4 linked regions of the Homo sapiens genome follow. The protein of the gene in region 2 purifies or fractionates together with the protein of the main gene of each other region. This does not show direct contact. Each region holds a gene or a part of one and is shown on either strand. Other genes may lie near its edges.

Region 1 (4,254 bases), on a different chromosome or scaffold from region 2:
TCCAGTGAGGGGAGCCATTGGAATGGGCCCTAGCAGGTACAACCCTACTTGGACAAGGCTAAGAACTTCCAGCAGAGCCAGTGGCTCCTGCTGGGTCTCTTACTGGGCTCTCAGACTCTAGTGGGTGACCCAAGCCCCTGGGGATGGTGTTCAAATGCAGACTTCCCCTTTTGTAGGTCTGCGGCTCTGAGATTCTCCACTTCTGACAAGCCCCAGGTCATGCCCATGTCAGGGGTCTATAGACCACGCTCTGGGAAACAAGGGTTCCGAGGACCGCTCAGTTAGCAACTGGCATAGCAGCTTCTGCAAAACCCTGGAAAAGGACTATATGCTGTTGTGTGTCTGGGTTCACCTTAGCAAACAGCTAGCTAGAAGTCGCCCACCCCACAGCTACGACGACAGAAAAGAAACGGCCTCGTGGGTGCCACAAGTCCTGAAGTCACAGTGAAAGATTACACTGAGCACTGGTTTCGTAGTCCACAGGTTAGAAGAGGTGAGCAAAGCAAGCAGCGTGACTGCCAAGAGTAACCACTTGCATTGCAGAGAAAAGGCAATGTTTATGGCCACAGCCAGGCACCAGGGAAGGACACCAGCACATTGAAAAGTGGGCTGGGCATGCTGGTTTACGCCTGTAATCCCAGCACTTTGGGAGGCTGAGGCAGAAGGATTGCTTGAGCCCAGGAATTCGAGACCAGCCTAGGCAACAGAGTGAGACCCTGTCTCTACAAAAAAGAGAAAGAAAAAAATTTTTAAGGTGAACAAAACTCAAAACACCAGAGCAGGATTCAGTGGATTCTACTTAGGGGTTAAAGCCCATCCCCAGCCCATCCCTGAATGGCTCCTAAGAAAATCACTGCCCTGGTGCACAGAACCAAAACAAATTCACAACCACCAGGGTTCACAAGACAAGGTTAAATGACATCCACTAGGCCAAAACAGAAAGGCGAAGAACAACCGACAATCAACCATGAAATGACAGTCAGCATCCTCTGCCTAAGAAGGTAGATCAGTTCCCTAGGGCTACTGCAACAAATCACCACAAATTCAGCCACTTAAACAACACACATTTATACTCCTCCGATCCTGGAAGTCAGAAGTCCAAAACTAGCCTAGAAAGCTAAGATCAACGTCTAAGCAGGGCTGGCTCCTTCTGGAGGCTCCATGGGAGAATGTTTCCTTGCCTTTTCCAGCTTCTAGAGGAGGGCTGCATTCCTTGGTTGCTGGCCCCTTCCTCCATCTTCAAAGCTTCTAACTCTGCTTCTGTCCTCACGTGGCCTTCTCTGACGGTGACTCCTCCTGCCTTTGCCTTATAAGGATGGGTGTGGTTACACCCAGATAATCTAGGATGATCTCCCATCTTAAGGTCTCTAATCACATCTTCAAAATCTCTTTTGCTATATAAGATGACATTCACAGGTTCCAGGGATTAGGATAGGGACATCTTTGGGAAATCAATATTTAGCCTCCTACAAAGGACAAAGGATTGTGTAATACATTTTATAAAGAAGTCCCTCAGAAGGTCTAAACTTGTTATATAAAGACAATTCCTACCTGGGACCCCTCATTCCAGGAGATGCCAGATAAGGTGCTGTTACTGACATGACCTTCCAAGCTTTGTTTTACAGAGCAAACCCCAATTTACACGGACCCTCCGAGCAGACGGTAGCAGATGAGGTGTCACTGCCATCCTTCCCTAATAATAACTTTGCAACTCTTCTTGCAAATTACAGTAAATTTACATATCACTGGGATGAACAGTCCTGCAGCAGTCCTCAGACTCTCCGCCCACCTTGGGTAGAAAGCACATCTGCCCAACCCTTCTCCCCCAAGCAGTAAAGGTAGGAAATAACTACCCGCCAACTAACAGTATCTCCTATCAAGATACTGTTGATGGGCCGGACGAGGTAGCTCACGCCTGTAATCCCAGCACTTTGGGAGGGCGAGGCAACTGGATCACCTGAGGCCAGGAGTTCAAGACCAGCCTGGCCAACATGGTGAAACCCCGTCTCTACTAAAAATACAAACATTAGCCGGGTACGGTGGCACACACCTGTAATTCCAGCTACTCGGAAGCGTGAGGAAGGATAATTGCTTTAGTCCGGGAGACGGAGGTTGCAGTGAGCCGAGATCACGCCACTGCACTCCAGCCTGGCCAACAGAGCGAGACTCCGTCTCGAAAAAAAAAAAAATACTGTTGATGGCTGGATGGAAACGATGTTTCTACAGAGATCTTAGCTTAATCACCTCGCCTGGGAAGCGCGGAGCCCAACACTACTGTGGATGTCCTGGCAGGGTTCGGAACAGGAGCTGCAAGCAGCCTAGGTCCCCGGAGTGACAGGAACCCTCGGACAGCGTTCTCCAAAAGGCTCCGCGCGACTAAGCGCCATAAAGTCTACCGGAGTGCAGGGCCGCGGGTGCCGGCAGAAGGCGTGGCGCACTGCGCAGAGCTGCGGGCGCCCGGGCCGGTCTCCGCCTCGCTGGAGGCCCAACCCGGCCACGTCCTCTCCTAGGGCCTGCACACCGGTCCACGCCATGGGGATACCTCGCGGCTCACTGCTCAGCACACCGGGCGCGGCGCAAAGGCGGAGGTCCTCAGCCCCGAGCAGGGCTTCCCGGCCTCTGCTACGGTGAGCACTCCAGAAGGCCGGCCTGGCCAGCCGGGCCCGCTCCGCGAAGCGGGCCGCGGCGCCGCCTGTCCTGGCCTCCCCCGGCCGCGGTTACCTGCCTCCATGATGAACCTCGCCACTCGGAAGTGCACCCTGGCTTCGGGCGCCGGCTGCCCCTCCGGGCCCCGCGCTGCAGGCCCCCCTCCGCCGCCCTCCGGGGCTTCCATGAGGCGCCGCGGCACCGGCGGAAGGAGAGGCGGCCCCGGCGCGCAGAAGCCGGCAGAACTGGAGGTGCTCGCGGCGGGCGCTGCCGCCCCACCCGGCCGCGTCCGGCCCCGCCCCGCCCCGCCCCTCGCCGCCCCGCCCCGCCCCTCGCCGCCCCGCCCCGCCCCTCGCCGCCCCGCCGCTCCTCCGCCCCGCCCCGCCCCTCAGGGCCCTCGCCCAAGGGTGAGCGCGCGCTTGCGCCACAGACGCTGCCTGGCCGCGCGCGCAGGCGCAGGCGCAGGCGCAGAGGCCGACACCACGGGGCGGCTGGTATGTGTCCACCGGCCCCTAGGCGCCTCGAGCCCCGCCCCTGGGAGACGCAGGCTCCTCCCCGCGGAGCGAGAGCCCGCGGAGCTGCTCCGAGACCCGCGGGAGGGCACCTCCGGTCACCCGAGCCGCAAATCCCCGCCGTCCGAAGGGGGTGTCGCCCCGGGCTGTCGGCCCAGCGTGGCTTAGGCCAGGTACAACCGGCAGCGCCCGCCAAGCCCTGGGCTAGGGACGCCTGCGGGAGTTCACGGGGAGGCGCCGGTGTCTGAGGTCTGAGAAGACAGCGGCCACCGGAAAAGGTGCTAATGTTTGCAGACCCCGATCCATCGACACCCCAAGGAAATGCTGTGCACAAAATTCCAAGAGGGCCTTTTCGAATAGACGCATGAACGGTGTTTGTGTCTGGATCGTCCAGCCTCCCGGGATCGATTGGGAATCTAGCTTCTGCTTGCCTTTCCAGCGCGACGCACAGTAGGAGCCTAATAAATGTTTGCTGAATGAATGCTGAATATCGAACTCAGGTATTTACCATCTCATTTTTCATTCGCGTCTTCCACAAGCAGGAAATGGTGCATCAGGCTTTAGGGACATAGAACCCCAAAGGTACTCACTCCCAAGTTAGTGACAGTCACTGGAGTCATTCTGATACATTCAGATCATTGCTACAATTTCAGACAGCTGGCAATATGGAGAGGAAAAAGCTACTGCTCCCTAAACCCTTCTGCCCAGGCGCCTTGATCTCCTGATGGTGTGGAAGTCTCCACCTCTTACCCCCACCCCACACACCCAGTCCGGCCTCATTCTCCTTCCTCAGCACTTCCTGCCTCCACCAGCCTCCCCAAGTCCTCTCTCCATCCCAGCTGGGTTAGTTTCCTGGGGCTGCTGTAACAAATGACCACAAATTGGGTTGCTAAAAACAGCAGAAGTATATCCTCTCTCAATTCTGGAGGCCAGACACCTGAAATGGAGGTGACACTAGGGCTTTGCTCCCTCAAAGGCTCTGGCAGAGGATCAGTTCTTCCTTGCTCTTCCAGCTTCTGCAGCCTGAGTTCTTCCTGGGCTTGTGGCCCCATCACTCCAATCTGTGCCTCCGTCTCTACATGGCCTTCTCCCTGTC
Region 2 (3,648 bases):
TGGGACTAGGGGAGGAAAGCCCTTGCCTGGGAGGCCTTTTCCCATGGTTTGCGCCTCCACTTGTGGAGGCTGCGTGAGGTTGTTGCCTCAGAGGATGGCTGTCTTGGGTCTGCTTGTACTGTTATGGGCTGGGGAGGAGGAAGGGCAGCAGGGAGGGGACACAGTACTTTTTCAGCCGCTCATCCAGCTGCTGCTTGTCATTCTCCAGGTCCATGATGCTCTCCTGGGTCAGCTTCAGGTCGCCCTCCAGCTTCCGCTTCGCTCGCTCCAGGTCCATGCGCACCTTCTTCTCTTGCTCCAGGGATCCTTCCAGCTGGTAGAGAGAAGGAGCCAGGCCCAGTGAGGCAAAGCATCCTGACTTGGTGATTTTGTTGTTCAGTTACCTCAGGACTTGGTAAATCTTTGTGTTCAGGACTTGGGAAACCTTCCCCAGAGTGGGCCAAATGTTATTAGGGGACTGTGAGATTGCCTAGATATAGGGGATGCTGAATCAATATTTTATAGATAAAGGAATAAATGACTGTGGGATGAAACCCCAAAGCCGTATTCTTTCTTTCTTTCCCTTTCTTTCTTTCTTTCTTTCTCTCCTTTCTTTCTCTCCTTCCTTCCTTCCTTCCTCCTTTTTTTTTTTTTTTTTTTTATGGAGTCTCACTCTGTCGCCAGGCTGGAGTGCAGTGGCGCGATCTCGGCTCACTGCAACCTCCGCCTCCCTGGTTCAAGGGATTATTCTGCCTCAGCCTCCTGAGTAGCTGGGACTACAGGCGCACGCCACCACATCCAGCTAATTTTTGTATTTTTAGTAGAGATGGGGTTTCACCATATTGGCCAGGATGGTCTCGATCTCTTGACCTCGTGATCCACCCGCCTTGGCCTCCCAAAGTGCTGGGATTACAGGTGTGAGCCACCGCGGCTGGCCGCCGTATTCATTCTTTCAGCATCCTATAAACACCTACTGGGCATCAGGCTCTGTGCTAAGCACTGCAGTCCCCAAATTGAATAGATCTAAGTTCCTATCTAAAGGAAGCTTGTAGTCTTATGGCTGAGATAGAAGCTTAAATAATTAAAATACAGAGTGATAAGTGAGTCAACAGACATATGTGCATCAGAGGGAACAATGATCAGATTCTGCCTTAAATATTGGAATTTCAAAAATTCTACTTGGGGAGCCTCACAAAATTTCCAAAGAAATTTATCATGTTCTTATGAGATGACCCTCTAAATCTTGTGTCAAAGGCAGAGATATATGGGATTGCACTTAAATTAAATAAGAAAACTCATCTCTATTATTGATCATACCAGTGAGATTAGATACATAATTCAGAATTGATCACCACCTCTGACTTTTCATTCCCCAGCTCCTTTCTAGAAAGATATCAGAAAAGTTAACATCCTCTAACCCTACCCCCCTCTAAACATAAACACAAACACACACACACACACACACACACACACACACACACACACACACACACACAGAGCTCTGGGCACAGATAGACATGGCATATCTAGGCCCCACAACTCTCAATCTACTCACATCATCCACTTGCTGCTCCAGCTTGACTTTGGCCTTAGTCAGGGTGTTGACCTTGTCCTCCTCGGCCTGAAGGTCATCCAGAGCCTGTTGGTGGGCCTCTTGCAGAGCTTTCTTCTCCTTGGTCAGCTTGGCAATGATCTCATCCAGCCCAGCCATCTCCTCTGTCAGGTTTTTCACCTGCCGACCAAGAATCCCATCTCCTTTAGGGTCAAAGGTCACCAGCTTGGTGCCATCTGTGGGGAGCTCCATGTCAAGGTCCATGCTGCTCTCTGGATGCCGAGTGGCTAGCCTGGGTCAAGGTCAGTATGGTCTGAGAGTCCTGATGAGACCCGGGCTGGAGCCAAAGGGAGCTGCCCTTACCTTGTTCTCTGTTGCGTGTTTCTCCTTCTCCACTTTGGCCAGTGTCAGCTCCAGATCATCGATGTCCCTTTTGAGCTCTGAGCACTCATCTTCCAGCTTGCGCTTCTTGGCAGTGAGCTCAGCATTCATCTCCTCCTCATCCTCCAGCCTCTCGTTCATCTCCTTCACCTTGGCCTCCAGCTGAATCTTGTTTTTGATCAGCTGATCACAGCGCTCCTCAGCATCTGCCAGGTTGTCTTGTTCCTGAAGGTGAGGAACAGAGGGGAGGCTGTTCAGGGGGTAAGGTCCTCATTCTTGCAGGTAGAGGGAAGGAGAGGCACATCACTCAAATAGGAGGGTAACTCTAGGATATCCCCACTTGGCAAGAGCTTCAGAAGTATGGGGAGGGGAAGAGTTTCAGGATAGTATAACTTGGGAACACTGGGGAGGGGAGCAGAGAGGAAAGGAACCAGAAATCTTCATCTGGACCTCTTCCTCTGGTCTCCTCCATCGAAGGGTGGGAATTGCATTTGCTGATGCCAAGCACTTATGTATGATGGCTTAATGAAATGGACAGCTTTATTCCCTGTCTAGAGGAAATTGAGGCTCAAAGATGATGCATGGTCTGCCCAAGGTCACAAAATAATTAAGCTGTGTATCTAGGTTGAACCCAAGTAGAAAGCCTGTGCTTTTAAAAGTCAGCTCTTTTCCCTCTGCCCTTTCCTCCTCCTGAGGGACCTCTTTGGAGGTCTTTAGAAGTGTTGATCCCAGAGTCCTCTGACTGAAGGAACAAGACAGTGAGCCCCTGTGCAGGGAGGTGCAGGGTTGTGGGAAGTGAAGGCAGAGCAGGGTGGAAGAGCCAACAGTAGCCCAGGAGCCTCACCGCCTGCACTTGGAGCTGCAGGTCATTCTTCTCCTGCAGCAGGGACACCATCTTCTCCTCCAGCTCCTTGCGGCGAGCCTCGGACTTCTCTAGCGCCTCTTTGAGGCGTGTGAACTCCTCCTTCATGGAGGCCATCTCCTTCTCTCTTTCTGCACTCTTCAGCAGCGGCTTGATCTTGAAGTAGAGCTTCATCCAGGGCCAATTCTTGACCCCCATGAAGGCCCGAATGTTCCACTGGATTACCAGCAGGGAGTCTCTGCAGGGGCCCATTGAAAGGAGTGCTGAGCCTCCTGCCTCCTTCCTACCTGAGGTCCTGAAACCTTGGGAATATCCCATTTCCTTCATCCCTCCCACCCTTCCTGAGGCCTCTGACCCTGTGACTGCAGTGTGTTCATATGAGCCCCTCCTGCAGGTCTCTGTGTTTGAAGATCTGCTGAGCTTTTTTTCCTGACACTGCCCCTGAACCAGCCTGGGCCTCAGAGAAGCGGGAAACCTCCTCTTGAGATCTCTCACCTACGTTCCAGCAGCTTTTTGTACTCCATTCTGGCGAGCACACCTCGGGACTGGGCCTGGATACGCGTGATGATGCGGCTCAGCCTCTCGTCCCTCATTTCCTCCAGCAGCCCCAGCAGCCCGGCCTTGAAGAACACCTGCAGGCAAGGTGTGTGTTGGCCATGACTAGGGAGGGGTACGAGGGAAAGAGATGGTGGGGATTACCTTAGGAAGGGTAACAGCCTAGAAAAGGATTGCAGGGAGGAGGTCAATGGCAGCTGGAGCTGGGATGAGGGGAGTGGTGCTAGATGTTCCACTGGGAGGGGTAGCATACAGGTAAGAGATTTTGCTAAGATGATTACAACAGGAAAAGCATCAGAGGAGTCAATGGAAAAGAGAT
Region 3 (3,648 bases), on a different chromosome or scaffold from region 2:
TAATACAGAAATAAGGACCTGGAAGTAAAAATCCAAAACAAGTGGCACTGGCTTAACAGACTGGCAGTGAGTAACAAGGAAACAGATTCTAACATATGGAGAGCCAATAACCTTTGTGATAGTATATCAAAATATTTGATAAAACTTGCAGGCAAACCATGTGTCACAGTGCTTGTAGCACACAAGAAAGCAGGTATAAAAGGGGAGAGTAGGGCTGGGCGTGGTGGCTTACATCTGTAATCCCAACATTTTGGGAGGCTGCTGTGGGCAGACCACCTGAGGTTGGAAGTTCGAGACCAGCCTGACTAACATGGAGAAACGCCATCCTTACTAAAAATACAAAATTAGCTGGGTGTGGTGGCGCATGCCTGTAATCTCAACTACTCGGGAGGCTGAGGCAGGAGAATCGCTTGAAACCGGAGGGCGGAGGTTGTGGTGAGCCAAGATCGAGAAAAGGGGCGGGGTGGAGGTGGGGGGACAGTGTTGGTATACCCTGGGTAACTCTTGTTGCTTTCAGCAAGAAGCTACAAGAATGAGTTATCTCAGATGAAAACAATCTAGTTTGCCAGCAGAGGTGGAAGGGATAGGGAGGCTCCCTCTGCCCGTGTCCTGTAATTCAACTGACTAAAAGTTCAGAAACGTGGAGCTATGCAAGATGGGAAAGACAATCTTCTTTCCCAAACCGCAGGAGGGACAGGCATTGATAGCCCTTCTCAAAGGCCACACATAAATCCAGACAATAGAGGCCAGTGGAACTGCAAGGATTAGAGAGCAAGAGTGCCTCCCTCCCACAAGCCTCTGCTTCATATGATCTCAGTCCATTAAACAAGGAGACAGGAGTGAGCCGAATAAAAAAGCCATGCAACAACAGGGTGAGAAGTCTCTATCTAGAAGATTCTTTAAGTGAGATTACTTTCATGTGGAACGGATTAGCTGCAAACAGACCAGAGCCTACTATGGCTAACTGATCATGGTAATTGTATTGCCAAACAAATCATAAGCTCAGCTCACAAATATCTGTGACTATGTGATCCTTAAGGGAACCCTCAGGCCCCAAATGTGCACCACAGAACTGAGCTGTGGAAACTGCACAGATCCCAAGAGGACAAACTCGTGCACTTCAGATGTGACAAGTGAGGGTAATGGACAACTCCGAACTTCCCAAAGTGCAAAATCAGGGCCCATGGAGGATCATGGGATAAGACAGCTGCTTCCAGAGAACAAAGGATGAACAGGTGGGCTGACACAAGCACTAACTGCTGCCAGGCTGTGGGGCCTCAAGGTGGCTTCAAGCAGAATCTGATGACTTCTCTATACCACTCCCTGCTATATTTCTCCTCCTTCTTTTTTCCAAGCACACACTTTGTGATTGTCTTCTGTGTACTGTATGCACGTGTGGTGTGAGCAGACTTGTCTATCAGTTTATTTGTTGCTAGAATACAAGTGGTCAGCCTGATGGGGGGTGTTCTGTACATCACTCAGAAATCCCAGGCTTTGAGCTATGGAACATAAGAGTTGTCTCACTTGGGGAGTGAGTGTGTCAGATGTTGAAAGAAGAGTACCCACAGATATCTGGATGTCAGAGGGGCAGACTGTGGCAGACTCTCTGTTGTTCCATAAACCATTCCTCTCTTCCATGGTATGAATGCTTTAGCTGGACATGTGGCTGGGCGGCCAAGGGAGCTATATTCCAATTCTCTCTTACAGCTAGGCATAGCCATGTGACTAAATGTGAGCTAAGAGGATGTAAGTGGAAACTGAAGCCAGCCACTATGGGGTCTTGGCCTCAAAGCATCATTGCTCTGCAGCTTCTCTTCCTCCTGACTGCAGGCAGGCCCATGCAAGGACCCAGCTTCCACCGCTAGACACAAAGAAACCCTACCTAGGAGACAGCAGATCAACAAGATGGGAGGAAGCTGGGTCCATAAATAACTGCATGGACCAGAGATGTCCACTAGGCTTGACTGGTCACTTCTAGACGGTTAGCTTGCATTAGAAGCCCCTGGAGAGCTCATAAAAACACTGATGGCTGATCAATTCAGGGGGTTTGAGGTGGGATCCCCAAATTTGCTTTTCTAACAAGTTTCCAGGTGATGCCCATGCTGCTGGTCTGGGGACTACACTTTGAGAAATACTGACCCAACACATTTAACATGCAACCTGACTCTCCATGAGAAAACAAACTTATTCTTGCCTCAAAACCTGTTTTCTCCTAGCACATCATTCCTCCTGGAAAACATGAAAACAGGCTGGGAGAGCATTTAACAATATAATAGGATGAATCAGAAATACAATCTTAGCCATAGTTTTCAAAGAAAATCTGAGAATTTCAGTTGTTGAAACAGTTTGCTTTTTAAATGATGAACATTTATTTACATGGCATTAATACAATTGTATAGAAGCTATATAATTGTATTTATACAATAGCTTCTATACAATTGTATTTAATGCTAAGAATTAACATGAGTCAAAACAATATAAGTTCACTAATGTATCTAATTTCTAGAAAAGTCAAAGCACTTTTCCAAGACTGATAATAGCTCTAAAACATTTATCTTCAATCTATACTTAAAAGACCTGTAAAAACTCATGGAAATTACTTGATTGACGAATAAAGTCAGTGTAAAATGGCCTATCAAGAATTACAGATTTTTTTCTCTCCTATATATTTTTATTAGAACAGGAAATGATTGTGTTCTGATATTCAACTACTTATTTACATGGCCCTTGGAGAAGCCAGAGGAAAAAAATTAAATACATTTAATTTATTCAACTGAATAAAAAAAAAATTAGCTGATATGGTTTGGCTGTGTGCCCATCCAAACCTCATCTTGAACTCTAGTTCCCATAATCCCCACGTTTTGTGGAAGGGACCCAGTGGGAGGTAACTGAATCACAGGGGCTGTTACCTCCATGCTGTTCTTTGATAGTGAGTGCATTCTCATGAGATCTGATGGTTTTATAAGGGGTTTTCCCCCCACTTTGCTCTGCACTTCTCCTTGCCGCTGCCATGTGAAGAAGGACATGCTTGCTTCCCCTTCTGCCACGACTGTAAGTTTCCTGAAGCCTCCCCAGCCCTGCGGAACTGTGAGTCAATTAAATCTTCTTCCTTTATAAATAACCCAGTCTCAGACATGTCCTTTTAGTATCGTGAGAATGGAGTAATATATTAGCGGTCCCTAAGAAAACATTTTCACCAGGCTTCAGTATAATTACTTAAGATTGAATATCTTTTCCACACTGCGGTTTACCTAATTTCAGCAGCCACTTGGTAAGGCGTTGTTTTCCAGACTTCCCCTTGCACTGTTTGCCCATCAGCCACTCTTACTGTGATGATGTTGCTTGTATCCCCCTTTTTTCCATAAATGGCAAGTAAGAGCTGATGGTCTTTCTTCAGTATTTCAAAAAGCTTCAATCTTTCTTTTATGAAAATTGGTTGATGCTTCACCTGGAAATTATTAGAACATAATGAGATTAATATATACAGCCTACTGTTTTCCAGCTGCTCAGCTCTGAATCAGGCTCACCCCCTTACTGCCTTCTCAGTTCTACAGATGGTCCCAAGCTTACCATGGTTTGAATTACGATTTTGTTGTTGTTGTTGTTTTTTGGTTTGTTGTTGTTGTTGCTGTTGTTTTGAGATGGAGT
Region 4 (3,648 bases), on a different chromosome or scaffold from region 2:
TGTTCTAAACTTTGTACATACATTAATCATAAATGATATATGGGCAAAGCTAAAGCAGTCTTTTTTTTTTTCAAGACTTTTTTTTTGAGACAGTCTCTCTCTGTTGCCCAGGCTGGAGTGCAGTGGCACAATCTCGGCTCACTGCAACCTCCACCTCCGGGGTTCAAGCAGTTCTCCTGTCTCAGCCTCCCAAGTAGCTGCGATTACAGGCACGGGCCACCATGCCCAGATAATTTTTTGTATTTTAGTAGAGACGGGGTTTCACCGTGCTGCCCAGGCTGGTGGCGAACTCCTGAGCTCAGGAAATCCCCCGCCTTGGCCTCCCAAAGTGCTGGGATTACAGGCGTGAGCCACTGCGCCCGGCCTAAAGTAGTCTTAAGTTGATACTTTACCACTCTAAGAAAGTAAGAGTTCTAAATATCAGGGCACTAAGCAGTGAATTCAGTTTATACACAGATTCCATCACAGCCCTGTTTTCTGTGAACTTTTCACCTGAGGGTAAGGGGCTTCTTTTCTTTCTTTCTTTTTTTCTATTTTTATGCAGGGTCTCTGCCACCCAGGCTGGAGTGCACTGGTGTGATCTCAGCTCACTGCAACCTTCATCTCCCAGGCTCAAGAGATCCTCCCACCTCAGCCTCCCAAGTAGCTAGGACCACAGGCACGTGCCACCATGCCTGGCTAATTTTTTTTTTTTTTTTCGTAGAGATGGGGATTTGCCATGTTGCCCAGGCTGGTCTCAAACTTCTGAGCTCAAGCGATCCATCCAACTTAGCCTCCCAAAGTTCTAGGATTACAGGCATGAGCCACCCCACCCGCCCAGGGAATTCTTTTCAAGGGCACTGATACTTGGGTGTGGTAAGCTTGATACTCTCGGTTGGATATTTACCCTGAGAAGTGAATTTTCCTGAACAAAGGTTCAGAAGTTCCTCCATGTTCTCTTTCTTGTCACTCTTCCTGGGTAGATGTTTTTCAGCCTGAGATGTGAACTTTCCAGTACACAAATCCAACAGCTCATCCATGTTGGCATCCATGGCATTCTCATCCATACTGGCCAATGGCAATCGAGGCTTCAAAGCTTGGTACTGATTCCTGTGGTTTCTAACATTTAAGAACCTAAGAACCAATGAGCACAACGAATAGTGTAAAAAATTCCTCAGAGAGGGCCGGGTGCGGTAGCTCACGCCTGTAATCCCAGCACTTCGGGAGGCCGAGGCGGGCGGATCACGAGGTCAGGAGATCAAGACCATCCTGGCTAACATGGTGAAACCCCGTCTCTACTAAAAATACAAAAAATTAGCCGGGCGTGGTGGTGGGCGCCTGTAGTCCCAGCTATTCGGGAGGCTGAGGCAGGAGAAGGGCGTGAACCCAGGAGGTGGAGCTTGCAGTGAGCCGAGATCGCGCCACTGCACTCCAGCCTGGGCGACAGAGCAAGACTCTGCCTCAAAAAAAAAAATAAAAAAAAATTCCTCAGAGAAATGGCAAAGTAGGGGGTGAAAAACCTCTGAATTCATTTCCTACACCAGTTAAAAGCTGAATCTCAAACCAGAAAGCAAAAGATTCAAACTTTAGGCTTGTGTTAATCTAAAGAGGGAGGGAAAAGTTTTGTGAAAGAATAAAATGTTACTCAGAAGGTAAAGTGTAAAGGATAACTTTTAGCTTCAGATGATGCTAGAGCAGGGCTTGGCATTATGTCCTGTAATGTGCCACCAGTCTGTGAATTCTCAACCTTACCCAACAATAATAACATAGCAGGATGGATACAGGGAAATTTGATGACCTTACAATACAAGATCTATGCATTTCAAATAAGACAGAAATTGAAGGACCAGAATGTTAGCAAGAGCTATTTATGTTTATTTTCTGGACAGACTTTGTTCAAACTTATAGAATGTAATACTAATGGTCTGTACACCTTCTCTTTCTCAGAAGAGAAAGCACAGATGGAGTGACAGAAGCTCACTTATTTTTAAACAAAATTAAGCAGTACCCAGCACCATTCCCGCCCACAGAAACACAAAACTACCTACCCATCTGCATCCAACAGTTGGCTCTGAGTGTCATCTTCTAAACAGAACTGGAAGTCTCCTGCTCCTAGGAAAAGTGTCTTAGGCTCTGGGGAGGCGTTATACAGATCCTGGGAATCCTCTATGGGAAGTGAAGGCTCAGACAGTTTCCCTGAACTCTGGCACACAAACAAAAACAAACAATAACAAAACATTTTACAAATGTCAGTCATTGTCATGACAACCACAAAAGTTGCTATTTGCAATATTTAAGCTACTCTCAGGAAATTGTAGTTGAGGGGGACAATACACAGCCATGAGAAGCATAAAGAAAAATACCTCCAAGAAAGTAAGAATACTGGATGAAGCTTGTTTTTAATACACAAAGGGGGTGGATTTTTTAAACTGAACACACATAAGCTCAGTACCAACGTGGTGGGAGTTGGTTGGCTGGGACAAACTTTATTTAGCAATGTGGGAAGCAAAGAGAGGAGGAGATTAGAAAAACCATTACCATCTTACCTTAGAAGCTGAGCTGACCAAACTGGCTCGAAATAGCCCAGGGGAAGGAGATCTGAATCCTCCTGCTGTAGGGAAAAAACTGGTCCCACGGCCTGTTTGTCTGTTGCAAGGCTGATAGGATGGAATCGTGGAGCCAATCAGCTCAAAGCTGCTATTGTGGCTGCTCTCCTTTGTTAGCAATGAACATGAATCATCCTCATCTAAAGAAAGAGAAACACCTTTTAAGCACATGATTACAGAAATAAGGTGGATTTGTTTAGGAAAAAGAGTTGAGGATGAAACTGTCAGATAAAATTCATAGGCAAACCCCTCAAGTTATATGTTCCAAAACATTAAGTTAAAGGTAAATTACAGTACTAAGATAGCATTATATAATCAGGGCTTATTACTCTGAGCTAAGTGACACTTGAAAGTTCTTTTTTTTTTTTTTTTTTTTTTTTTGAGACAGTCTCGCTCTGTCACCCCAGCTGGAGTGTAGTGGCGTGAATTCGGCTCACTGCAACCTCCGCCTCCCAGGTTCAAGCGATTCTCCTGCCTCACCCTCCCAAGTAGCTGGGACTACAGGCGCGTGCCACCACACCTGGCTAATTTTTTATATTTTTAGTAGAGACAGGGTTTCACCATGTTAGCCAGGCTGGTCTCGATCTCCTGACCTCATGATCCGCCTGCCTCAGCCTCCCAAAGTGCTGGGATTACAGGCGTGAGTCACTGCGCCTGGCCGAAAGTTCTCTTCTTTCTCTTATCCTTCCTAATGCCTATGATCACACTCTTCATTGTCCAATCAATTATACGTCTTCCTTTGATCTACATACAGAAACATTTCATTGCTCACTCAATCAACACACATTCACTAAGGACATTATGTACCATGGTCTACTATAAATAAACTGCAAAAAATAGACCAAGAAAAATATTCTAATTCATAAACCCTTTTCATAGCTACATATGAAACTGGGAAGTGACCAGATTTAAAAACATGGAAACTTACCGTACTGCAGTCCTTAAATATCAAAGCTGAGGGACAAAAGAAATGTTAAGTTCTGCACAAGAATCACTACTTACCCAGTTTGCTAGGCTGCTTGCCTGAGTTTTCATCTGTTTCTGATTTTTCTTCAGTAGGAAA

What was found.
Region 1: the proteins of MYH7 (region 2) and CCNQ purify together in Homo sapiens (affinity purification with mass spectrometry; one large-scale study listed by BioGRID and IntAct). This does not show direct contact.
Region 3: the proteins of MYH7 (region 2) and TARS3 purify together in Homo sapiens (affinity purification with mass spectrometry; one large-scale study listed by BioGRID and IntAct). This does not show direct contact.
Region 4: the proteins of MYH7 (region 2) and CLSPN purify together in Homo sapiens (affinity purification with mass spectrometry; one large-scale study listed by BioGRID and IntAct). This does not show direct contact.

The regions. Positions count from the first base shown.
Region 1 is NC_000023.11:153,596,241-153,600,494, forward strand, and holds the start of CCNQ (cyclin-Q), read right to left. Parts: upstream 2,900-4,254; 5' UTR 2,834-2,899; coding exon 2,722-2,833; intron 1,923-2,721; exon of another isoform or gene 1,182-1,922; intron 1-1,181. UniProt on the Homo sapiens protein: Activating cyclin for the cyclin-associated kinase CDK10.
Region 2 is NC_000014.9:23,422,013-23,425,660, forward strand, and holds part of MYH7 (myosin-7), read right to left. Parts: intron 3,407-3,648; coding exon 3,270-3,406; intron 3,013-3,269; coding exon 2,757-3,012; intron 2,138-2,756; coding exon 1,895-2,137; intron 1,712-1,894; coding exon 1,535-1,711; intron 314-1,534; coding exon 168-313; intron 1-167. UniProt on the Homo sapiens protein: Myosins are actin-based motor molecules with ATPase activity essential for muscle contraction. Forms regular bipolar thick filaments that, together with actin thin filaments, constitute the fundamental contractile unit of skeletal and cardiac muscle.
Region 3 is NC_000015.10:101,717,875-101,721,522, forward strand, and holds part of TARS3 (threonine--tRNA ligase 2, cytoplasmic), read right to left. Parts: intron 3,449-3,648; coding exon 3,252-3,448; intron 1-3,251. UniProt on the Homo sapiens protein: Catalyzes the attachment of threonine to tRNA(Thr) in a two-step reaction: threonine is first activated by ATP to form Thr-AMP and then transferred to the acceptor end of tRNA(Thr).
Region 4 is NC_000001.11:35,745,880-35,749,527, forward strand, and holds part of CLSPN (claspin), read right to left. Parts: coding exon 3,588-3,648; intron 2,726-3,587; coding exon 2,526-2,725; intron 2,183-2,525; coding exon 2,028-2,182; intron 1,114-2,027; coding exon 887-1,113; intron 1-886.